Linked DNA regions of Homo sapiens. The protein of the gene in region 3 interacts with the protein of the main gene of each other region in a pairwise test. Each region holds a gene or a part of one and is shown on either strand. Other genes may lie near its edges. The genes, in order: SLC71A1, GJA1, HTR2C, TMEM94, SPNS1, TM9SF2 and ATP6AP2.

Region 1 (3,500 bases), on a different chromosome or scaffold from region 3:
ACACTGTTTTAACAGCATTTGATTTTTGTTTCTCTCTTTTGGATCTTTAATTTAAAATGCAACTTGCTTTGGCCATAGGCCTTTCCTTCCTCATTTATCAACCAAGTGACAACTGCCACTGTTTTGCAGTGCCCCTTTTATCCTTATGACTAGACAAAACATATCCTTTTCAAAGAAGTATTTGTCATCTGTTAGCATCCCAAGAATTAAATGTTCCCACCAAAAAAAAAAAAGAGAGCATATGACATTAAAGATGTTGCTGTGTTACATATCTTCAGATGACTGAAACTATATGATTTCTTTTTTTTTTTTTATTAGAGATGGGAGTCTTGCTGTGTTGCCTAAGCTAGCTTCAAACTCTTGAGCTCAAGTAATCCTCCTGCCTCAGCTTCCCAAGTGGCTGGGACAACATTCATAAAAGGTCTATGAATATATCCCACAAGGTGTCTAGCACAACACAGCAAAAACTTAATGCTTAGTTAATATTCTGTGGCCAACATTCATCAGTAAATTTTTTTGAGACAGGTCTCTCAAGGTCTCTCACTGTGTCGCCCAGGTTGGAGTTCACTGGCCTGATTTTGGCTCAGTGCAACCTCCGCCTCTGAGACTCAAGTGATCCTCCAACCTCAGCCTCCCAAGTAACTGGGACTACAAGCATGCGCCACCCTGCCCAGCTAATTTTTGCATTTTAGTGATGGGGTTTCCCCATGTTGCCCAGGCTGGTCTCCAACTCCTGAACTCAAGCAATCTGCCTGCCTCGGCCTCTCAAAGTGTTGGGATTACAGGTGTGAGCCACCATGCCCAGCCTCATCAGTAAATTTTCTATGAACAGAACAGATAAGCCACATATTCTAAGTGAGAGAAAAGGGAATATGTATCTACCTAAGGATAAATACCCTAGAATCTGCTTTTCCTGTTTATATCAAAAGCAATTTTAAAAGTCTCTACCCTGAAGATATACTTATGTTTCAGTACATAGGAGACAGAACACAGGATTAGAACATTCTGTACTTTTAAATAATTATCGCTAGTTCCTATCAACTCACCCTGTTGATCAGCATCAGCAGTTCGTGAAACAAGTGCACTGACAGCAGGAAAGGTGATGCTAGACATGGCTGCTACTGCCCCAGCAGCCCACATCATCCTATAAGGAGAGCAGCAAAACAAAAACAGTAAATTCTTCTCCACTGTACCTGAAAGTCAAACTACATAATTAAGTAATTCTTACTGTGAAATGGCTGTAGAGAAAAGGAGAACTGAACTTGCTTACTAGGTGACTATGGGCAAGTCGCTTAACAATCTGACCCTGTATACAAAGACAGCAACTTAATTCACAAGAGTGCTGTGAGGGTGTAATGTAAAATAGGGATATCATGTTCCAAACTGTAAAATGTGCTGGGTATTATTTCTACAGGCAATTGAGAGGTTATATTGAGGATAATGTATAATATAGATGACGAAACATCATCAAATATTTCCAAACACATGAAGCCAACAAGTCTTTGGCAAAGTTCTTATGGATGGATTTGTGAAGATATCGCTGATTTGATCTAATCCTTAAATTGTAAAGAACAAGTAACTTGGATGTTCCTGGCTTGATGTTTAAAAGAAATGTTTTAGGTAATTTCAATTGTGAGCACCTCTTTGCAAAGGCTAGTTTGGAGAACAAATCATCACCCTCTTGATGCTTGCTTATATCCAAGTCCAAACAGAGACGAGGCAGTCAGTTGTTTGAAATATTAGTGCAAACCATGGAGTTCAGTGCCATAATGCCTGAGCACAATAATACTATCTACGTGGGCAGCCTGACAACAAGCGTCACTACTCAAGTCCCCTGCAGGAAACCCGACTGGTCAGAAAAGCTGAGACACAGCATGAAGCTGGCACCAAAATAACTGGATTGTTTTCACTTCTGGTTTGCTATCAGTAATGATCACTGGTTATACAACTTTCTTTTTCCTGACCAGAAAAACAAAAAATGTAAATAACTTTCAGGGCCTTGTTGCTATGGGATTACATACTTTTTCCTAGTAACGGACTGATTTAGATTAAATGCTCCTTAAAGATTCAAAAGCTGTATAATCTCATTCAAAAATTCAGCCTGTCATTTAGCTATAAAAGGTCACCTTTTTAATCCTCAAGCCATTCTAGGAGAACATATAAATATACAAGTGGCAGACTTATATTAGACACATTTTGAAAGATAAAAAGCATAGTATGAGACAGATTACAGTCTACCCCTCAGTTGAGAAGCAAATAAAAACACAAGGGCTAACACCAAAATTAAAAATATTAACATTAAAATATTTATACTTACCAAGGTTCTGAACCAAAGCCATACCATGCCAACTGTAATATTTGAAATCCTAGACCCAGTAAAATGGTGTTCTTATTTCCAATTGACCTCATAAGTAAACTCAAGACTATGGTCTGAAAAAAAAAAAAAAAGATTTATCAGAATAAAGTTTTAAAAAGTGACTTCTTTCAATCTACACTATAAAAGGACTATTGGCACTTTTCTACAATTTGGCTGATTTTCAGCAATAATTGCCCTGAATATGTCTGAGATCACTAGTCCAGGTCACATAAGCAGATGAAAAGTCCCTCTGCTGACATAGATCCAGACTGAGAGTTAGAAAACTGAAAGATAAAACTTCCTATTCAGTACATTTCTACTGAGGACCACTTAAATCAGTAGTTGAAAATGGAAGGGTCAAAAGTTCTAACTAATGATTTGGAGATCCCCATTACATAATAGCCTTAAAGCTTGTTTAGGTCCAAGTTAGTCTAAAATGCTTATTTCCACAACTAAAGAAAAACTAACAGAACAATGATTACCCATATATTATTTACCTAAGTTAATCTGTTGTTGAAACCATGATGCCTTTTATAAACAGTAAATTAATAAGCTTGATTTGGGATAAATGCAGTATACTATACAGCAGACTTTAGAAAAACAGCCTGGATCATAATCTTGGCTTTGTGTGGCTCTCAGCAAGTCACTTCACTTTGAGCCTCACTTTTGTCTCTTTGCAAATGGGGATAACAGCACCTATTTCAAAACCTTGTCATGGGAATTAAATGAGATATATTTACATAAAGTTCTTAGAATTGTGCCTGGCAATAATCAGCGGTTAATAAACAATATTATCAGTGGGTGGGTTTTCTTGTGCCTCCTTTTTCTTTCAAAGTCAACAAAGTTCAGCAGTGATTTGGGAACATTAGAAAATTTTTTTTTGCTATTCTAACTAACGTTTTTAATATACTACATAAGATAGCTAGTAAGTCCATAGACAAGTAAAAATAATTCAGGAAATCACTATTTTATGATGGGCTGACACTTTAAAACTCATAAAATATAAGTTTTGAATTCTTTAAATTGAGATGGCCACTTAAGAATTTAATCACAAATATGCCAGTGAAAAGCAAATGATTCATTCAAGGATTTTTGAGCAATTAGAACTCACAGCTTTCTTGTCTAAGACTTTCACTTAAATCAC
Region 2 (2,291 bases), on a different chromosome or scaffold from region 3:
AGGTCGCTGGTCCACAATGGCTAGTGGCTGTAATTCATGTCCAGCAGCTAGTTTTTTAGAATTCTGGTTATCATCGGGGAAATCAAAAGGCTGTGCATGGGAGTTAGAGATGGTGCTTCCCGCCTGCCCCATTCGATTTTGTTCTGCACTGTAATTAGCCCAGTTTTGCTCACTTGCTTGCTTGTTGTAATTGCGGCAAGAAGAATTGTTTCTGTCGCCAGTAACCAGCTTGTACCCAGGAGGAGACATAGGCGAGAGGGGAGCGGTTGGTGAGGAGCAGCCATTGAAATAAGCATATTTTTGAGACCCACAGTCTTTGGCAGGGCTCAGCGCACCACTGGTCGCATGGTAAGGGTCGCTCTTTCCCTTAACCCGATCCTTAACGCCCTTGAAGAAAACATAGAAGAGTTCAATGATATTCAAGGCCAGGGACACCAAGGACACCACCAGCATGAAGATGATGAAGATGGTTTTCTCCGTGGGGCGAGAGAGGAAACAGTCCACCTGATGTGGGCAGGGATCTCTTTTGCAAGTGTAAACAGCACTCAAGCTGAATCCATAGATGTACCACTGGATCAGCAAGAAGGCCACCTCAAAGATAGACTTGAAGAGGATACTGATGATGTAGGTTCGCAGCAACCCCCCTCGCATTTTCACCTTACCATGCTCTTCAATACCGTACTTGAACTTCTTTATCTCAATCTGCTTCAAGTGCATGTCCACATTGACACCATCAGTTTGGGCAACCTTGAGTTCTTCCTCTTTCTTGTTCAGTTTCTCTTCCTTTCGCATCACATAGAACACATGAGCCAGGTACAAGAGTGTGGGTACAGACACAAATATGATCTGCAGGACCCAGAAGCGCACATGAGAGATTGGGAAAGACTTGTCATAGCAGACATTTTCACAACCAGGTTGCTGAGTGTTACAACGAAAGGCAGACTGCTCATCTCCCCAGGCTGACTCAACCGCTGTCCCCAGCAGCAGGATTCGGAAAATGAAAAGTACTGACAGCCACACCTTCCCTCCAGCAGTTGAGTAGGCTTGAACCTTGTCAAGGAGTTTGCCTAAGGCGCTCCAGTCACCCATGTTGCCTGGGCACCACCTGAAAGAAACAAAGAGACAATTCAAGGATCACAGATTGCAAATTACTAGTTTAACATTTAGTACCTTTCAGGTGATAGTCAAAATACTACCAACGGTTTCACGTATTTCTAACATTCTTTCACAAAAAACCAAGTGCAAACTCTTCCTGTCCCATTTTTGCCAACGAAGAAAAGATCTAACAAGTGTTTTGTTTTGTTTGTTGAGACAAAGTAAGTCTTAGAAGCAACAGATGATGAGTTGCAGTCTTTAACCTGGGAAGGTGTATTGCTTGCTCAACCACTGCCTTGCTGTGTGACTTGAGAAGCCACCTGTGCTAAGCCTCTGCTCCTTTTATTTGTCTGATAAATGAGGACAGTTTTTGCCTGGTAGATCTGTGTTTGCTAAGCAAAATCCTGATGTGTGTTATTCAAAGCATAGGTATCAAGAATCCAGGTAAGAATACCTATAAACACACATCCATAACCTTCTTTCCAAAACCTTAATGCTATTATATATCATTTTATTACTAATTTCACTCTGAAAGATTTTTTTTTTAAGATGGTGTTTCCCTCTTGTTGCCCAGGCTGGAGTGCAATGGCACAATCTCAGCTCACCACAACTTCCGCCTCTTAGGTTCCAGCGATTCTCCTGCCTCAGCCTCCTAAGTAGCTGGGATTACAGGCATGTGCCATCACGCCTGGCTAATTTTGTATTTTTAGTAGAGATGAGGTTTCTCCATGTTGCTCAGGCTGGTCTCGAACTCCTGACCTCAGGTGATCCATCTACCTCAGCCTCCCAAAGTGCTGGGATTACAGGTGTGAGCCACCACGCCTGGCCTCTGGAAGATTTTTCAATGGTATATCAAGTGTAATTTGTGCATACCCTATATTATTGTCATTTACACTTTTCTGTTTCTTTTTTTAGAGATAGGATTTCACTATGTTGCCCAGGCCCCTGGGCTCAAGAAATCCTCCTGCCTTAGCCTCCCAAGCAATGGTGACTATTTTTTTCTTAAGCAGTGACTTATGTAGCTCAGAAGTCAGCCTTCTGTCCAGAGAAAAAGTAGGCTGTATGGAAATATACTCTTTTGCTACAATGTGTCATTATATGTAGTAACCTACTTTGAAAAACAAAGACTAAATACACATCACACTTCATGTAAAAAGTTCATTTTGTCTCAATACTACTCACAGCCTTATTAAAAA
Region 3 (3,500 bases):
GAAATGAAAGGGTATTCTTGTCAAAACCCACTGTACCTCTTCCAGACGCTTTGCCGGAATTTGATCTGATGGCAACTTAATTCCTTCTTAGCCTTGGATCAATAGAATGCAACTTCCAGTTTCCTTGTTAGGGTCATGGATGCTTTAAGAAAATCCCCCTTCATTCTGTTATCAGCTGTCTCAGAACATATCTAAAGGAATCAGTATTTTAAAAATATAAAGAATAGACTATTACAGCAAATCAAGCAGTACTGTGGTTTCAGATCGCAGTAAAAGTTTAAAACATAGACTTTGAAATCAGTGGGACCTGAGTATGGACCCTGGCCCCGCCACTTACTGGCTGTTTAGGCTTGAAAAAGTTACTTACCCTTTCTGAACTTTACTCAGTCTTCTCATCTACGTGATGGATATAAATTAGAACTGACATCATGAGGTTGTTTAATAAGATCAAATGAGATTATACATATATGTTTCAGCAAACTAAGTGCCTAACTCATAATAATCACTCAATAAAAGTTGGTGATTTTTGGAGAGAAAGAAGAAATACTGAGATTAATTAAGAGAGTAGAAATAATGATGATGACAATGATGCTGATGATGATAATGATGACAATGATCCATGAAGAAGCAGTTGTTTTGCATGAGCAACGTATTGTGTATAAGTAATATAATATGTACCTGATTGTTTTTTTTTTTCTTAATTTTCAGTGTGCACCTAATTGGCCTATTGGTTTGGCAATCTGATATTTCTGTGAGCCCAGTAGCAGCTATAGTAACTGACATTTTCAATACCTCCGATGGTGGACGCTTCAAATTCCCAGACGGGGTACAAAACTGGCCAGCACTTTCAATCGTCATCATAATAATCATGACAATAGGTGGCAACATCCTTGTGATCATGGCAGTAAGCATGGAAAAGAAACTGCACAATGCCACCAATTACTTCTTAATGTCCCTAGCCATTGCTGATATGCTAGTGGGACTACTTGTCATGCCCCTGTCTCTCCTGGCAATCCTTTATGGTAAGTACAATTTTATTCACTTTTCAATCTCGTATAATGTCATAAATTTGTGTCATAGTAAACACTCATAAAGTTAATTATTTTACTTGTAACATTTGGAAAAAGAAAAAAGCAAATCGTGTGACAGAAGGAGTTGGATGTATGTATCATATTTATTAAACAAATCAGTAACAGTCTTCCAAAAGCAAAACATACATTTTATATATATTAAAATCATACATAGATGCTCTCTTGCTTAGTGTCTTTGTAAACAATGAATGAACAGTTAGTTGCCTTACAATGTACTGAATGAGACATTAACAGAAACATCTTTCAACCCCTGTGTTCTGGGCAGTACACATACCTACTACCATCTCTGATACAAAGAAGGAAAAACCGGCTCATCCTCTTTAATAAATATATTTTAAGAAATCCTTTTTTAAAGCTGCCAAACTAAGTGGTTGACACAAAACAGGCACTCAATAATAGCTATTCTTCTTGTTCATGGAGTCTATAATTTGTGTTATTACAAAGAGACAAGAGATAGCAAAATTAATTACTAAGTATATAAGTGTAAGTTCATATCATCACTTTAAAAATTCAGGCATTGAAAGTTTCAATATATTGATTTTAAAGAGGTTTTTAATTTTTCTTTTGATTTTCTTCCATCCCTTCATTCTGTTCATTTTAACCTAAGGTTTTGTTTCTAGCTAATATTTATGATGAACAATCAAATAGTTTATACAACTCTACAAAGTATCTTTACTAGGAAGTTGGAGAGCCCAGTTTGAATTTAATTGCTAATATGCTTATCTCACAAAGGAGTAAAATAGACTTCCAGTTGCCTGGAGTGTATAATGGAATTAGACTAGAAGAAATAATATTGAAAGTGTATCTAGTTGTCGAATCCTAAAAGAAAATAAATGCATCTAGAAAATAATCTCTCATGTAATGTAAAAATTAAGTAGCCTGTTCTATACCTATGGCAACAGTAGATTATCTTAATAGGCATTTTATAAAGTGTTCTCAGAATATATGCTTTTCATATTCTTCATCGAGTTTCAATGATGCATTAGCCTTAAAGCACTAGTATTTTATCTGCTCAGTGGGCATTTTACCACTCTATTGCTCCAAAATTAAGAAAAGATTACTGGAATGAAGTGAAACTATGATTTAGAAGGTATACTGTGTTCTGTGGTGTCTGTTTCGCCAGCTTCTCCCTTTAAAAAAATGTGAGTGGCCAAATAATGATATTAGCATAAATCCAAGTCTCTTAACATATCTATTCCCCTGCCCAAATAAACAAAGAACAATATAAAAAACAAATAAAACTGCACAATACCACCATTAAGTGTGGAGAACATTCAAATTTCAAATTACCTGTAAGTAGGAAAACAAATGGGAAATAACATTGAACTATCTATTAGACTTCTACCCCATGCTGTTGCGTAGAAGAAGAGTAGTCCAGGAAAGATAGCATGAAATAAACTAGAGGAAAGCTATTAGGAAGCCTAAGATTGATCTAAAACCACCACAGGTGGCCGGGCGCGGTTACTCACGCCTGTAATCCTAGCACTTTGGGAGGCCCAGGCTGGCGGATCACTTGAGGTCAGGAGCTTGAAACCAGCCTGGCTAACAGGGTGAAACCCAGTCTCTGCTGAAAATACAAAAAAATTAGCCGGGCGTGGTGGTGGGCGCCTGTAATCCCAACTACTCGGGAGGCTGAGGCAGGAGAATTGCTTGAACCTGGGAGGCAGAGGTTGCAGCAACTCGAGATCACAACACTGCACTCTAGCTTGGGCGACAGAGCAATACTCCATAAAAAAATTTAAAAAAAAAACCACCACAAGCAAGTAAGTCTACCCCAAGTACGAAAATACTGAAAAGTTTCTCTAGAAGGTCAGCTTTCAGATAAGGTACTGAAAAGTATGCATAAGACTCAAGAAAGCAGCCTTGGAAAATTAACTCTTTGGAGGTGGAAAAAGGTAAAAAAGGAAGCAAGAGGTGACTTGAAAAAAAAAAAGCACAGTGAAAGGAAAAAGAAGCAAGAGGGGGAAATTTATCATCTTACAGTACAGAAAATGTCAAAATATTAGGACCCATCACCCCTCCCTCTACTGTCTCCCACTGTCCCCCAAAGGCCCTCCAGTAAAGAAACCATACTTTGATACACAAAGAAAAGAGGATGCTCTTGAGCTTGGAATTTTGGAAGCTACCTACAAACTGTCAGTCATGTTCATAGAAATTCTGAGATGCAACCAATCTTCATCTATACCAAGCTACTATAGAAAAAAATCAGAATATGAGAATAGAAAGAAGGCATTTGATGAACATTCCCTCCAATAAAGAATGATCAAGCCGAAGAATATGCTAGCAAAACACTTCAAAAAAAATCTGCAAACAAGCATGTTAAGGTATTAAAAAATGTACTTTGAAGTAGTAATCTAATAACTAAGAATAGAAATGGTCAAAAAAATAGGACAGCATGAAGGAAAATTA
Region 4 (3,500 bases), on a different chromosome or scaffold from region 3:
AGGATGAATGGGACAAGGTGTGGACAGTGTAGGCCCCGACGACGCAGGGACCAACCACATCATCTTAGGCGACCTTGTGGCCCAGCCTTTCCCTGTCAGGACTCCCCCATTCCTGGCTTCTCTCCTGTTTTCTCCGTTGACTCTGACTGTTCTTCCCCATCCGTCTACCCCATAGGCCACCTAGGACACGTTACCAACCTCTGTAGGTTTCCAGAGCAACCTCATCCACAGTCACAGAGTCACCTGCCACCAACAAGCCTACAACTCCTATTTTACTTCAAGTCTGACCGCTACCCTGAATGTGGACCCGTCTGCTGAACGGGCCTACAGCTGCTTCACAGGGACCTAGGAGTCAATGTGTCCAAAAACCTGAACTCGGGCCGAACTCACGCCTGTAATCCCAGCACTTTGGGAAGCTGAGATGGGTGCACTACTTGAGGTCAGGCATTTGAGACCAGCCTGGCCAGGCCAACATGGTGAAACCCCATCCCTACTAAAAATACAAAAATTAGCTGGGCATGGTGGTGCATGCATGTAATCCCAGCTGCTTGGGTGGCTGAGGCATGAGAATCACTTGAACCGGGAGGCAGAGGTTGCAGTGAGCCAAGATCACGCCACTGCACTCCAGCCTGGGTGACAGAGCTAGACTCTGTCTCAAAAAAAAAAAAAAAGAAAAGAAAAAAACTTGAACTTGCCACCTGGCTCTACTGCCAGAGTCACCTTTCCTCTCACAGTGACTGTCTCACCCAATCACCTCTAGAACATTCTTGACCCTGGCCTTATGCTTGCCCAAACTCCACCCCACACTGTCTCTAACTTTTCCAAACCCACTGGAACACCTTGGCCAGAGCAGGGCCTGCCTGGTTGGTCAAATGACCTATTTACCCTTAAAATCAAGTCCGATTCTTGTGTGTGCTCCTGGAGACCCTTCAGATGTGCCAGCCTCCCTGGCCTCCTTTCCTGCTCCTCCTGACACGAGCCGAGCCCCTTCAGCTCATGTTCACATACTTGATGTGTTTCCCAGCGAGAATCACGTGCCCCACCCCAGTCAACTCTTGCTTCTCCTTCAAGACTCAGCTCAAACATCACCTCCTCTGGGACATTTTCCCAAAACCCAGGGCTGCACTTCAGGGGAGGTTTACATGTCAATGGTGTCCTGGGCAACCTGGCCTGCAGCCTGCACCTTACAGAACTGTAATCACAGATTGACACAGCTGGCTCTCCCGCCAGACTGCAAATTCCTTAAAAACAGGCTCTGAATTCTTCCATTTCCACACACCCTCACCATCCAACTGCTGAGACAGTGCATGGCACACACAAGCTCAGTGAATACTTGCTGAATGAATGAATGAATAAATGAATGAATGAATGAATGCAATGATCCCAATGAAACAGCAACAGGAACAACCCGAGGCATTCCGCAGCTTAGTCAAGGCTTCACCTTAATCGGGACTGTCAGCCCAAAATCTTAGACACCACAGCTTTTAAAAATGTGGTGGATGTCTAGGCTCCACTCCGGACCTACTGAACCAAAATTTCTGGGGATGAAGGGAATTCCAGGTTATACATACATACATACATACATACATACATACATACATACATACATATATATATATTTTTAAATTGAGACAGGGTCTTGCTCTGCTGCCCAGGCTGGATGCAGTGGCGTGGGCATGGTTCGCTGCAGCTTACACCTCTCAGGCTCCAGCGATCTTCCTGCCTCAGCCTATGGAGTGGCTGGGACTACACTCAGCTAATTTTCTTTGCTTTTTTTTTTTTCTTTTTTGAGACAGAGTCTCGTTCTGTTGCCCAGGCTGGAGTGCAGTGGCGCAATCTCAGCTCACTGCAACTTCTGCCTCCTGGGTTCAAGAAATTCTCCTGCCTCAGCCTCCCGAGCAGCTGGGACTACAGGCACATGCTGCCACGCCCGGCTAATTTTTTTTTATATTTTAGTAGAGACCGAGTTTCACCATGTTGCCCAGGCTGGTCTCGAGCTCCTGAGCTCAGGCAATCTGCCCGCCTTGGCCTCCCAAAGTGTTAGGATTATAGGCCTGAGCCACTGTGCCTGGCCCTTTGCATTTTTTTGTAGAGATGGGGCCTCGATATGTTGCCCAGGCTGGTCTTAAACTCCTGACCTCAAGCAATCCTCCCTCCTCAGCCTGCTAAAGTGCTGTGATTATAGGCGTGAGCCACCACACCCCAGCTCTGAGGCCCTGGGACAAAGAAGAGCCCCATGAAAGGCAGCGCCTGAAGGAGAAGTGAGTCTTTCCAGGACCACCTGCGAAGCATCCATGTGAGCTTCCCTCTGGAAAACCTCCTGAGCAAGAGGAGTGAATCCCTAGACCTCAGGCACCAGGAAAGGGATTTGGGGCAGCCATGGAGGAGGCTCAGCCACAGGCTGTGGGGCTGGTGACCCCTGGCTGCCTCGTCTCACTGCTCTCCCCACCCTCTATGCGGCCCACAGTTCTGTCTCCCAGAGTCCTGCCCTGGCTGTGCCCTCTGGCCTTCTGGGCTTACTCCTTCCTGCCTGTCTCCACACATACCCCCTCCTCGGCAACTGAGCCTCAGCCCTGGCAGGGCACACATCCCATAAGTAAGAGTGGCTCCTGGGCCCAGGGATGCTGCCCCCTGCCACAGCCTGGCATCACAGGAGGCACTCAAGTGGAGCCCCCAGTGCTGGCCTGAGGGACGGGGCCTGGCCCCAGGATTCCCCAGCTCCCTTCCCTAAATCTCACCTAATCCCGCTCTCCACAGTGGCTTTGGGGGATTATAAAGATAAGAGCCGCCTCTTCCCAGAGGGGATAAACTGGTTATTTCAGCTCAGAAAGAAATGGCCCTCCCGGCGGGGACCTCACACCCCCACATGGGTAAATACTGTGCTCCAACGCACCCACCTCCCTTTGGCAAGGATCCTGAGGCCTCCCAAAGAGGCCATGGTCCAGGGCAAATGAATGCCTGTACCTGTCCTACTGCCTCCCGGAGCTCCTGACATGGAGGGAAGGAAAGCTTCAGGGAGGGTTGTAAGGGAGGAAGAGAAACAGGAAGAGGAGACCATAGGCCTTCTCCTGTCTGTGGGCATGGACGTCTGTTCCTCCCACCCCAGGGAAGAAGAGGATCTAGGAGACAGGCGGCTGCACACAGAGACCCCAGGCCTCCAGTGTCTTCCCCTCAGGCTCAGCCTTCTGAGCTTCCTCGCCACAGAGAGGAATGTGAGTGTTCCCAGGACAGAATGGCCCATACCTGGGCCAGGCCTCCAGACATGATCAAGTGAGAAACACACTGAAGGCAGGAAAAGCTGGCCTGCATAGGGGGAAGGCTGTCCACCCAAGAGATGGAGACTGGGAGGGAGAAAGAGAGGAAGGACCAGGCAACTGTACACAGCTGGGAAGATGCTCGGCCTAGAATGAGGACCACACTCAGGAAGGTGACAGTTTCCAGCAAGGCAGAGAAAAGGCTAAGAGGAGTAGTCAGAGAGCCAGGGAGGTGTCCCTCCTTTG
Region 5 (3,500 bases), on a different chromosome or scaffold from region 3:
TGGGATGTGGGGGTGTTGTGAATTCTGTAAGGAGAAGGCAGGCATCTCCTGTGCTTTAGTGGTTCCAGCTGGGGTGGGAGTGGGAGGTAGGGGTACCTGGGCTGAGCTGTGACTCTCTGCTTCCCCCTAGTGTTCATCTCCAGTTACATGGTGTTGGCACCTGTGTTTGGCTACCTGGGTGACAGGTACAATCGGAAGTATCTCATGTGCGGGGGCATTGCCTTCTGGTCCCTGGTGACACTGGGGTCATCCTTCATCCCCGGAGAGGTGAGGCCCCAAGCTGGCTCCTGTTTCTGCCCACACCCCCTCCCTGTCAGTCTCTGCTGCTGCTCCTTGGAGCTATGGCAGACTGGGCCTCAGGGACTCCTGCAGTTTCCCTGGTCCATGCCATTTTATACCCCTCCTTGCCTGAGTTAACCTGCCCCACCCCATCCTCCCCTTTTCTTCCAGAGCATTCTCTGTCCATTATCCCCTCTTCCCCTGACCACTGACTCCTTCTACTCCATACCTAAACACTCCAAACCCTACCTGGCCTGCCCTCTCTCCCTCCTCTCATTCCTGATCAGACTTCCTGAAGGGCCCCTAGAGCGTGGTGCCAGTGTGGGTAAAAGAGCAGCCGGGGAGATGCCATCACTCTGCCTGCACTTCCTCACGCCTGCTCACCCCTCGAGCGCTGCCACTGACTTCTGCTCCCACCACTCCACGGACCCTGCTCTTGCCAAAGTTAACAGTGGCCTCCTAGTTGCTAAACACAGCTCCAACTTCCTGGTCCTGTTCATGCTAGGAGCCTCTGGCACTGTTGACCCACTCTTCCTTCCTGAAACTCTCTCCTACCTTTGCGATGCCACACTCTTCTGGCTTTCCTCCTGCCTCCCTGGCTGTTGCTTCTTTGTTCCTTTGAAGCCTCCTCTGTCTGTTCTCACTCCACCCCAGAACTCTGTCCTCAGCCCCAGGACCTACGTACTTTCCTTGGGTGACTGTACCCGTCCTTAGCTTCAGGTGCCTTTGGTAGACACATAAACTCCCATCTAAGGTCACTTATTCATTAAAAAAAAAAAATTAAAAAACTTTCCCCTACCAGGCAAGCAGGGGTTGTCTTATTTAGACCTTTTATTGTCTAGTCCTTGCAATAGCTCTGTGAAAAGTTGTTGTTATCCTCCTTTTGCAGATGAGGAAACTGAGGCTCAGAGAGGTTAAGTTATTTTCCCCAAATCGCAGCTAGTAAGTGGTGGAGCCAGGATGCAAGCTCAGGTCTGTGTGATTCTAAAACCCAGGCATCTCCCGCCATCCCTGCTGCCTCTTGGGAGCGGGCTGGTGAGGTAGCCCGGAGGCTGGTTGCAGGCTGGGGTGCCACCTCTCCCCGGTCTCTCTCCCCAGCATTTCTGGCTGCTCCTCCTGACCCGGGGCCTGGTGGGGGTCGGGGAGGCCAGTTATTCCACCATCGCGCCCACTCTCATTGCCGACCTCTTTGTGGCCGACCAGCGGAGCCGGATGCTCAGCATCTTCTACTTTGCCATTCCGGTGGGCAGGTGAGTGGGCCTGGGGCCTGGGGGAAGGCAGAAGGGCCTGGTGTGGGGGACTGGACTGACTGGCTGTCCCCCCTTTTTCCCCTCTCTCCCTCCCACAGTGGTCTGGGCTACATTGCAGGCTCCAAAGTGAAGGATATGGCTGGAGACTGGCACTGGGCTCTGAGGGTGAGTCTGGTCTTGGCCTGGGGGTAGGTCAGCGACGTTCTCACTGATCCCTGTTTCCTACCTTTGGACCCCTTCCCACCGCCCATTTTTCTTTTAAGAGACAGGGTCTTGTTGTGTCACCCAGGCTGCAGTGCAGTGGTGCAGTCATAGCTCACTGTAGCCTGGAACGCCTGAGCTCAAGTGATCCTCCCACCTCAGCCTCCCAAGTAGCTGGGACTATAGGTGCCCGCCACCATGCCTGGCTAATTAAAAAAACTTTTTCTTTTTGTAGGCTGGGTGTGGTGGCTAACACCTGTATCCCAGCATTTTGGGAGGCTGAGGCAGGTGGATCACTTGAGGTCAGGAATTCAAGACCAGCCTGGCCAACATGGTGAAACCCTGTCTCTACTAAAAATACAAAAATTAGCTGGGCGTGGTGGTGCATGCCTGTAATCCCAGCTACTCGGGGGGCTGAGGTAGGAGAATCACTTGAACCCAGGAGGCGGAGGTTGCAGCAAGCTGAGATTGTGCCACTGCACTCTAGCCTGGGCGACAGTGCGAGACTCCTTCTCAAAAAAAAAAAAAAAAAATTTTGCCAGGCATGATGGCTCACGCCTATAATCCCAGCACTTTGGGAGGCTGAGGTGGGCGGATCACCTGAGGTCAGGAGTTCTAGGCCAGCTTGACCAACATGGTGAAACCCTGTCTCTACTAAAAATACATAATTAGCCAGGCATGGTGACGCATGCCTGTAATCTCAGCTACTCGGGAGGCTGAGGCAGGAGAATCGCTTGAACCCGGGAGGCAGAGGTTGCAGTGAGCAGAGATCGTGCCATTGCACACACAAAATTTTTTTTTTTTGTAGAGATGGGGTCTTTGTATGTTGCCCAGGTTGGTTTTGAACTCCTGGCCTCAAGCAATCCTCTTGCCTTGGCCTCCTAAAGTGCTGGGCTTACGGGTGTGAGCCATGCGCCTGGCTCCAAATACCCCTTTTTTGGGGCAGCTCTCATTCTGCTGAGCCTGCAGGAGACTGGCTGCCCTCACCTGGAAGCCATGTGCTAGACAGAATTCTTGCGTGCAGGTGACAGAAGCCCATTGTAAAACTGTAAGCCCCCTAGAGGCCGGGTGCGGTGGCTCACACCTGTAATTCCAGCACTTTGGGAGGCCAAGGTGGGTGGATCACAAGGTCAGGAGATTGAGACCACCCTGGCTAACACAGTGAAATCCCGTCTCTACTAAAAATACAAAAAAAAATTAGCTGGGCGTGGTGGCAGGTGCCTGTAGTCCCAGCTACTCAGGAGGCCGAGGCAGGAGAATGGCGTGAACCCAGTAGGCGGAGGTTGCAGTGAGCCGAGATCGCACCACTGCACTCCAGCCTGGGTGACAGAGTGAGACTCTGTCTCGAAAACAAACAAACAAACAAACAAACAAACCGTAAGCCCCCTAAAGGGGCTGTCTTGGCTTTCTTCCTGAAAGTCCCAGGTGAGCTTCAGTCAGGTAAAGCTGGATCCAGGGCTCCCACACTGCCCTTCTCTTCTGAGCTTTACTTTCCTTTGTGTTAACATCATTCTTAAGGACGTGAGAACTCCAGATGATTACCTTTCCATTTAGCAACATTGGCACCTTGGACCCTGGGGCCGTGTTTCCAGGATAGCGTCTGACTAGATGAACATGCATCACGTGCCCTCTGCGGAATCCGTCACCGAGGCTGGGGTGGTTAACAGTCCTCTTGTTGGCCAAGCCTGGGATCCTATTTAAACCAAGTGGATTGAGAGAAGTAGGGGTACTGGTTTCCCAAAAGAAAATTACCAAAGAGGAGACAAAGCT
Region 6 (4,077 bases), on a different chromosome or scaffold from region 3:
AAGGGTTCTGGAACCAATCTCCCATAAATACTAAGGGACAACTCTACCCATAAAAAATAAATACAAGAGATACATAAAACTGAAAGAAACTCTTCTATCTTAAATATTCCATGTTAAAAATGAACAGAGCTCCTCCTTTACTCTTCAAAACCAACAGGTCCGTTTTTTTAAAAAAGGACAGTGACATAAAATTATTCAGTAAGGCTGGGCGCAGTGGCTCACACCTGTAATCCCAGCACTTTGGGAGGCCGAGGCGGGCAGATCACCTGAGGTCAGGAGTTTGAAACCAGTGTGACCAACATGGAGAAATGCCGTCTCTACTAAAAATACAAAATTAGCCGGGCGTGGTGGCACATGCCTGTAATCCCAGCTACTCAGGAGGCTGAGGCAGGAGAATTGCTTGAACCTGGGAGGCGGAGGTTGTGGTGAGCCGAGATCTCGCCATTGCACTCCAGCCTGGGCAACAAGAAGGAAACTCTGTCTCAAAAAAAAAAAAAAATTATTCAGTAAGAACCCAGCAATATCATATAAGTGACAGCTAGTAATTTTAGTTGTAAGTTTAATGACAGTATCTGATTTGCTCTCCTAAGCAGCAAGCAGAGAGACCCTAAAATACAAATGAATATGCTCACAGATACAAGCAGACCGATACTTCAGAATCACCCCCCATTCCTATATTCTACATAAATGGATTTCAATTAGTCAGATGAATGTGAAAGACAGTGCATTTCTTAACTCTTAGAAGTAAAACTGTTTGTGAAATCTAAATTAAAACAATGAAATCATAAAGATGAAGACTTGCTAGTGATTGCTAATGTCCAGGTAATAAAACCTGACTTAAAACACTGTATTTTGAAAAACAAGTCAAAAATAGAAACTCCTTAATGACAATGTAGTAAGGCTCCACCTTAAGTACTTGCAGATAATTCATCTGTCTAGATATGCATGACTTCAACCTCCTCTACTGCCTCACAGTGAACATTTTAGACAATGCCTTACACAGTGAAATTCCATTCAGATCAAAACTCAGAAAGTGTTACATTAACAAAATCCAGTAAAATCTGATAAAATAGTATAAATCATTTCAAAACACCTTGGTAAATAGATCTGTATTTACAGAACCTCCTTGAATATATAATAGGTAATGATGCAATGAAGACATTTTTATAATATTTATTAAGATAACAAATTTATAAATTGAAAGACTCAGAGGCACATAGTTTAAAAGGCCAATACCATGGGAATAATGAAGTCAACACAGAAAAGTAAGAAGATATGAACAGTTACAACCAATAGAAGATTTTCTTTAAAAGCCACATTCCCCTGGTGAACACATCATAGGAATCATCCTTCAAAATTACCATGATAAAAAGTTATTTCCTTCAAAGAAAAATAATTCTTTCTGCCTACCGAGCCTAGAAAATCCTATTTACAATGCAGTGTCCTGCCTTTCATCAGTATTATTTAATATGGCCTCCTCTATTCTGCCATTAGAAGTATGGAAAATTTTATAGCTACTGTATTTACAAATGCACATAATATTTAAATTTGCTCTTCATTGAGAACAACCAAATATATACTTAATCAAATCACAATACAAATGCTTTATAGTGTTGAAGACACATCTTATGGGGGAAAGGTGTATGGGAAGAGGTTTATTTAGAATTACGGTGTTTCTGAAGGATTACTAGGCCAATAATTCTGATAAAACTCAAGGCAGTCACAAAAACAGGTCTTTGTTGATGAAGAGTTTAATTTATTTCTGTTTTAACTGGACACACTGGACTTCTTCAGTCAACCTTCACCACACTGTATATTTTGGTAACAAACCAAAAGCATGCAAAGAAGCCAATTGTTCCTATAAGAGAAAAAATAAAAATAAACCCCTTTTCAAAGGAAGTTTCATACTTTACACAAAAATACAGACTTACAATGACTGGTTCCTTAAAAAAGTCGCAAAACTATAAACTATTACCCACCGGGAATATACTACAGATCTATGAGCACGTCTGAAAAATATACGACCACCTCAAATCAAGTTTCTTACAAAAATTGGTAGAACTTTTTTCTACTATAAGATTACCTAAGCTTTCTACAATACACATTATTTTCCTTACTACATAGAAAAGACTGAAGGATGTCAACTGTCCTTTCCTATTTAAGAATATTTTACAACAAAATGGAAAACGCTACTAGAATTTTTTAAGGTATGAGATGAATACATTAAAACAGGTTCAAATAATGATTAAATGGGGATATTTTCTAAGTACAGTTATTGGAAGTTATCAGTCTTCAAAGAATTATAATAAAATAACTCAGTAAGTTTTTACAAAATGTTAAAAGTGACATGATTAGATAGTAACAAAAATGCATCCTAGCTGAAAATGAGGGACAGCATGGTAGCAGAGAACAGAGCAGCTCTGTCACAAACTGTGTGTGTCATCCTTGGGCAAGTCCACTGACATCTCCAAGCCCATTTATCATATTAACTAGGGAGAAATTTATCTGTCCTCATTGCCTCCATAGACTATTATGTAGAGTAAATGAGATAATTCATGAAAACAATGTATGGCTTGATTTTCAGGTATCAGTCTAGATTCCAAAGAATTTGAATGCTAGATGGGGACACTCTTTCAATGAGACAAAAATGAGGTTCAAAGGGGTTAAGTGACTGTCTCATGGTCACATGGATGGTACTTGTGGCCAGAAATCAAATGCGTTTTTTCTGACTTCAAGCATAGTACTCCTTGCACATGCACACATAAGGGACTATAAATAATCCTTGTATAAATTTTACATTTAAAGTCCCAATAGTTTTCACCATTGTTTTAAATGCAGTACTCTGAGAAAATATTAAAGGAGATTTTCTAAATCAAGAGACTATACATGGGACATTACCGTGGGAAATTACAAACATCATTATATCCATCCTTACATTGTACATGTATTGAGGCCCTACTATATGCAAAGCACAATGTGTGTTTTGGAGGACATACAAATATACCTTTTGCATAGTCAAAAGGATAATTATTCAGGCTAGGGCTGGGGTTAATTTCAGAAAAGCAATAATGAAAACTCAGTATATTTATATAACTTTGTACTTACTTGCATAAATTTCAAGATGACAAACAATATTTTAAGATGAGAAGAACATTTAATCACTATCCAGGCAACTCTAAGAAACTTAAGTTTAGTTACTTAATTTTGTTCTTAATATGGAATATATGTACGTACTAAAAGTGGCGTCTTTCCTTTTGTGACAGAATAATTACTTCTGTTTTGTAAAATGGATTGACTTAAATACAATAAAATGGCATTGCTCTGGAGTACTGAAGCAAATACAGACCATACCCTATTTTAGAGAAAGGTAAGGCATTTAAAGGGCTCACTACTCCCTTATCCAGAATGCTTCCACCTGTTCACTAAAGGAAAAATACAATTGAAGAAAGTGAAATACACTATAAGTTACTGGTTTAACTGGTTGGTTCCATTTGATATGACTCCATAATTCAGATTACAAAATTCAACTCTGAATGAATGAAAATATAACACTTTAAAAAACAAAATCAGCTGGGCGCAGTGGCTCACGCCCAATCCGAGCACTTCGGGAGGCCAAGGCGGGCAGATCGTCTGAGGTCAGGGGTTCGAGACCATCCTGGCTAACATGGTGAAACCCCATCTCTACTAAAAATAAAAAAAATTAGCCGGGCGCAGTGGCGGGCGCCTGTAGTCCCAGCTACTCGGGAGGCTGAGGCAGGAGAATGGCGTGAACCTGGGAGGCAGAGTTTGCAGTGAGCTGAGATCGCGCCACTGCACTCCAGCCTGGGCAAAAGAGTGAGACTCCGTCTCAAAAAAATAAAAATAAAATAAATAAAAATAAATAAAATTTAGGTGATGGTTAAGCTATCATTTTCTGTATCATATGTCTGGAAAAACAACAGATATTCACAATGATCGTTATTTTTTGTGTGTAGGCTAGGAATAAATTATTCTGTATATGCATTTATGGACACACAGGGCACAAAAACAGTCATTCCTTGTTTCACTGGCTACTGCTGTTTTATAGATGATTTATTA
Region 7 (3,500 bases), about 74 Mb from region 3:
CGGCACAGCTGTCAGAACAGGAATGTCCAAACTGCTCTAGCTGAAGACAGACCAAAAAAATTAGCAGAATGGAATGGTCTTTTGTAACTGATAGATATCTTGGTTCACTAAAGTAGTAGTACTGCAAACACTAAGAAAAATGGGGAACCAAGAGACCTATGCTTCCCAAGAACCATACACATATTTTGTTTGTTTGTTTTGAGACAGAGTCTCACACTGTCGCCTAGGCTGGAGTGCAGTGGCACAATATTGGCTCACTGCAACCTCTGCCTGCCAGGTTCAAGCAATTCTCCTGCCTCAGCCTCCCAAGTAGCTGGGATTACAGGTGTGTGCCACCATGCCTGGCTAAATTTTGTATTTTCAGTAGAGACAGGGTGACACCATGTTAGCCAAGCTGGTCTCAAACTCCTGACCTCAAGTGATCGGCCCGCCTCAGCCTCCCTATGTGCTGGGATTACAGGCGTGAGCCACCGCGCCCAGCCCCAGGTACCATACACATTTAAAAAACCATATTTTGATTTGGAGATACCCTTGTTTTGAGACACGGCCCTACTCATTCAATTCTGGCAAACCTATACCAAATAACTTTGCCCCAGCTTCGTAGTTTCAACTTCCATGCCTGTACAACAGTCCTTCAGAAGCCCAGAGCTTTAGAAAACCTTAGAGTCAGGGACTCCTATACAGAGGAAGGTCATTTGTCCAAACTTCTGCTTATTATAAGTATAAGCATGTCTCAGGGATACCTGGCAGAAAGTCACCCCTCCTCTATTTCAATACTACCAGTGATGGGGACACCACCTCAATATACGAACTACATTTGCCAGCAACTGGCTCCATTTTCCTAACATTCTAGTCCTTTGAAAAGTTTTTCCTTGTACTGAACTGAAATGGGCTTCCTAACTTTCAACTTCCTATGCTATCACTCCCCAACTCAGTCTCACCAGATAACCTCATCTCCAGCTTCACAGAGAAAACAGAGGAATTTCTTGAGCTACCTGCTTCCTCTCCCCACCACAAATTTATCTGCATAAGCCCCTATCTGTAACTCCTCTCCCTCCAGACATGAGGGCAGGGATGTCCCTCCTCCAGACTAAGACAATCCTGTGTTCAGTCTTTTTAGGGACCTTTGTTCCTTCACTGTTTGTTAAGGAAGCCACTCTTCTAGGACAGACAACACATCAGGAGTGAGGTGGCTATATGGTAATAGCCATCAAAAGATGGCCCTATAGAATACAAGCTCCATGAAGGCGGGGATTTCAGTGCGTCTTGTTCACACACTATCCCCAGGGCTGAGAACAGAGCCCGACACATTGGTGCTCAATAAGTACTTGTTGAGTTAATGAATGAATGAAGTCACACTTCAAACCACCAGTTTTTTCCCTCTCCACTGGCCCTTTCACTTCAGCATAAAAATACGCTCAAGGCACTCCCATTCTATAACTAAAACCATAAAAAACCTCCTTTGGTCCTACCAGTCTCCACCAGCTACCAGCCTTGCTCCCCTTCAGAGGAAGAATCCAGGAAGAGCAGTCAACCACCGTTTGCTTCTATACTTCATTTTAAGTTTACTACTTAACCCACAAAATTTTAAAAATTTTTTTTATTTTTATTTTTTGAGACAGGGTCTTGCTGTCACCCAGGTTGGAGTGCAGTGGTAAGGATCTCAGCTCACCGCAACCTCCACCTCCCAGGTTCAAGAGATTCTCCTGCCTCAGACTCCTGAGTGGCTGGGACTACAGGCACGCACCACCACGTCTGGCTAACTTGTGTATTTTTTTGGTAGAGACAGGGTTTCACTACGTTGGCCAGACTGGTCTCGAACTCCTGACCTCAAACAATCCGCCTGCCTCGGCCTCCCAAAGTGCTGGGATTACAGGCGTGAGCCACCCCACCTGGCCGCCCACACCTTCCAAGCCCACCATGCCACTGAAACGACTCCCCAAACTCAAAAGGCAATTTCCATCCCTTAATTTTATCTAACTTCCCAAAGCATTTGATACTGGCAACTCCCTCCTTGAAAAGCCCCTGCTTTGGTCTTCATGCAGCCACGGCTCCTGGTTTTCCTTGCAATCCCTTTGGCTGCTTCTCCTCTGTTTCTTTCCCTTCCTGTCCTTTAAAGCAGTGGTAGCCAAACTTTTTAGATTTCAACCCTGTCAGCCCAAAATTGGAAAGTAGCCCTTCTTTCTTCTCTCTGTCCCTCTCATCCTCTCCATGTAAAGTATATACTTCTACTATAGTAATAGATTATGTATTTGATTTGTGCTATATTACAAAGCATACAAAAATAAAAGTTTTTAAAAGGATGAGATACCTGTGTAGTATTTTTCCCAATCTAATAATGAGAAAACATCAGATAAACCCAAATTGAGGGACAGTCTACAAAATACCTGACCATTATTATTCAAAAAGAGATAAGATAAAAATAGGCCAGGCATGATGGCTCACACCTGTAATCCCAGCACTTTGGGAGGCCAAGACAGGCGGATCACTTGAGGCCAAGAGTTCAAGACCAGCCTGGCCATAATGGCGAAACCTCATCTCTACTAAAAATACAAAAATGAGGCCAGGTGTGGTGGCTCATGCCTGTAATCCCAGCACTTTCAGAGGCTGAGGCAGGCAGATCATTTGAGGTCAGGAGTTTGAGACCAGTCTGGTGAACATAGTGAAACCCCGTCTCTACCAAAAAAATACACAAGTTAGACAGATGTGGTGGTGCATGCCTGTAGTCCCAGCTACTCAAGAGGCAGAGCACCTGAGGTTGGGAGTTCAAGACCAGCCTGACCAACATGGAGAAACCCCGTCTCCACTAAAAAAATACAAAATTAGCCAGGCATGGTGGTGCATGCCTGTAATCCTAGCTACTCGGGAGACTGAGGCAGGAGAATCACTTGAACCCGGAAGGTGGAGCTTGCAGTGAGCCAAGATCATGCCATTGCATTCCAGCCTGGGCAACAAGAGTAGTCCCAGCTACTTGGGAGGCTGAGGGACAAGAATCACTTGAACCCCAGAGGCGGAGGTTGTAGTGAGCCGAGATCGTGCCACTGCACTTCAGCCTGGGTGACAGAGCAAGACTCTGTCTCAAAAAAGGAAAAAAAAAAAAAAAAAGATAGAGGCTGGGTGCGATGGCTCACACCTGCGTGTAATCCCAGCACTTTGGGAGGCTGAGGAGGAGGATCACTTGAGCCCAAGAGTTTGAGACCTCATCTCTACAAAAACAAACAAAAAATTAGCTGGGTATGGTGGCATGCGCCTGTGGTCCCAGCTACTAGGGAGGCTGAGGTGGGAGAATCGCTTGAGCCTGGGTGGTCGAGGCTGCAGTGAGCTGTGATCACACCAGTGCACTCCAGCCTGGGTGACGGAGTGAGACCCTGTCTCAAAAACAAAAACAAAAAGGATATAAATGGAATTTCTAGTACATTCATCTGGCATCCAAATGGATCACCTAGCATACTCCACTTTGGAGATCTGAGGGCTCCATTCTTGACTCTTACTGCTTTCCT

Evidence for each region.
Region 1: the proteins of HTR2C (region 3) and SLC71A1 interact in a two-hybrid assay, tested with the Homo sapiens proteins (one large-scale study listed by BioGRID and IntAct).
Region 2: the proteins of HTR2C (region 3) and GJA1 interact in a two-hybrid assay, tested with the Homo sapiens proteins (one large-scale study listed by BioGRID and IntAct).
Region 4: the proteins of HTR2C (region 3) and TMEM94 interact in a two-hybrid assay, tested with the Homo sapiens proteins (one large-scale study listed by BioGRID and IntAct).
Region 5: the proteins of HTR2C (region 3) and SPNS1 interact in a two-hybrid assay, tested with the Homo sapiens proteins (one large-scale study listed by BioGRID and IntAct).
Region 6: the proteins of HTR2C (region 3) and TM9SF2 interact in a two-hybrid assay, tested with the Homo sapiens proteins (one large-scale study listed by BioGRID and IntAct).
Region 7: the proteins of HTR2C (region 3) and ATP6AP2 interact in a two-hybrid assay, tested with the Homo sapiens proteins (one large-scale study listed by BioGRID and IntAct).

What each region holds. Positions count from the first base shown.
Region 1 is NC_000001.11:100,076,095-100,079,594, reverse strand, and holds part of SLC71A1 (hippocampus abundant transcript 1 protein), read right to left. Parts: intron 2,431-3,500; coding exon 2,318-2,430; intron 1,145-2,317; coding exon 1,047-1,144; intron 1-1,046.
Region 2 is NC_000006.12:121,445,646-121,447,936, reverse strand, and holds part of GJA1 (gap junction alpha-1 protein), read right to left. Parts: intron 1,106-2,291; 5' UTR 1,090-1,105; coding exon 1-1,089. UniProt on the Homo sapiens protein: Gap junction protein that acts as a regulator of bladder capacity. A gap junction consists of a cluster of closely packed pairs of transmembrane channels, the connexons, through which materials of low MW diffuse from one cell to a neighboring cell.
Region 3 is NC_000023.11:114,730,586-114,734,085, forward strand, and holds part of HTR2C (5-hydroxytryptamine receptor 2C isoform a precursor), read left to right. Parts: intron 1-36; exon of another isoform or gene 37-191; intron 192-708; coding exon 709-1,022; intron 1,023-3,500. UniProt on the Homo sapiens protein: G-protein coupled receptor for 5-hydroxytryptamine (serotonin).
Region 4 is NC_000017.11:75,480,635-75,484,134, reverse strand, and holds part of TMEM94 (transmembrane protein 94), read right to left. Parts: intron 1-3,500. UniProt on the Homo sapiens protein: Could function in the uptake of Mg(2+) from the cytosol into the endoplasmic reticulum and regulate intracellular Mg(2+) homeostasis.
Region 5 is NC_000016.10:28,977,778-28,981,277, forward strand, and holds part of SPNS1 (protein spinster homolog 1), read left to right. Parts: intron 1-130; coding exon 131-267; intron 268-1,377; coding exon 1,378-1,529; intron 1,530-1,627; coding exon 1,628-1,694; intron 1,695-3,500. UniProt on the Homo sapiens protein: Plays a critical role in the phospholipid salvage pathway from lysosomes to the cytosol.
Region 6 is NC_000013.11:99,560,472-99,564,548, reverse strand, and holds the end of TM9SF2 (transmembrane 9 superfamily member 2 precursor), read right to left. Parts: intron 1,859-4,077; coding exon 1,791-1,858; 3' UTR 501-1,790; downstream 1-500. UniProt on the Homo sapiens protein: In the intracellular compartments, may function as a channel or small molecule transporter.
Region 7 is NC_000023.11:40,583,970-40,587,469, reverse strand, and holds part of ATP6AP2 (renin receptor precursor), read right to left. Parts: intron 1-3,500. UniProt on the Homo sapiens protein: Multifunctional protein which functions as a renin, prorenin cellular receptor and is involved in the assembly of the lysosomal proton-transporting V-type ATPase (V-ATPase) and the acidification of the endo-lysosomal system.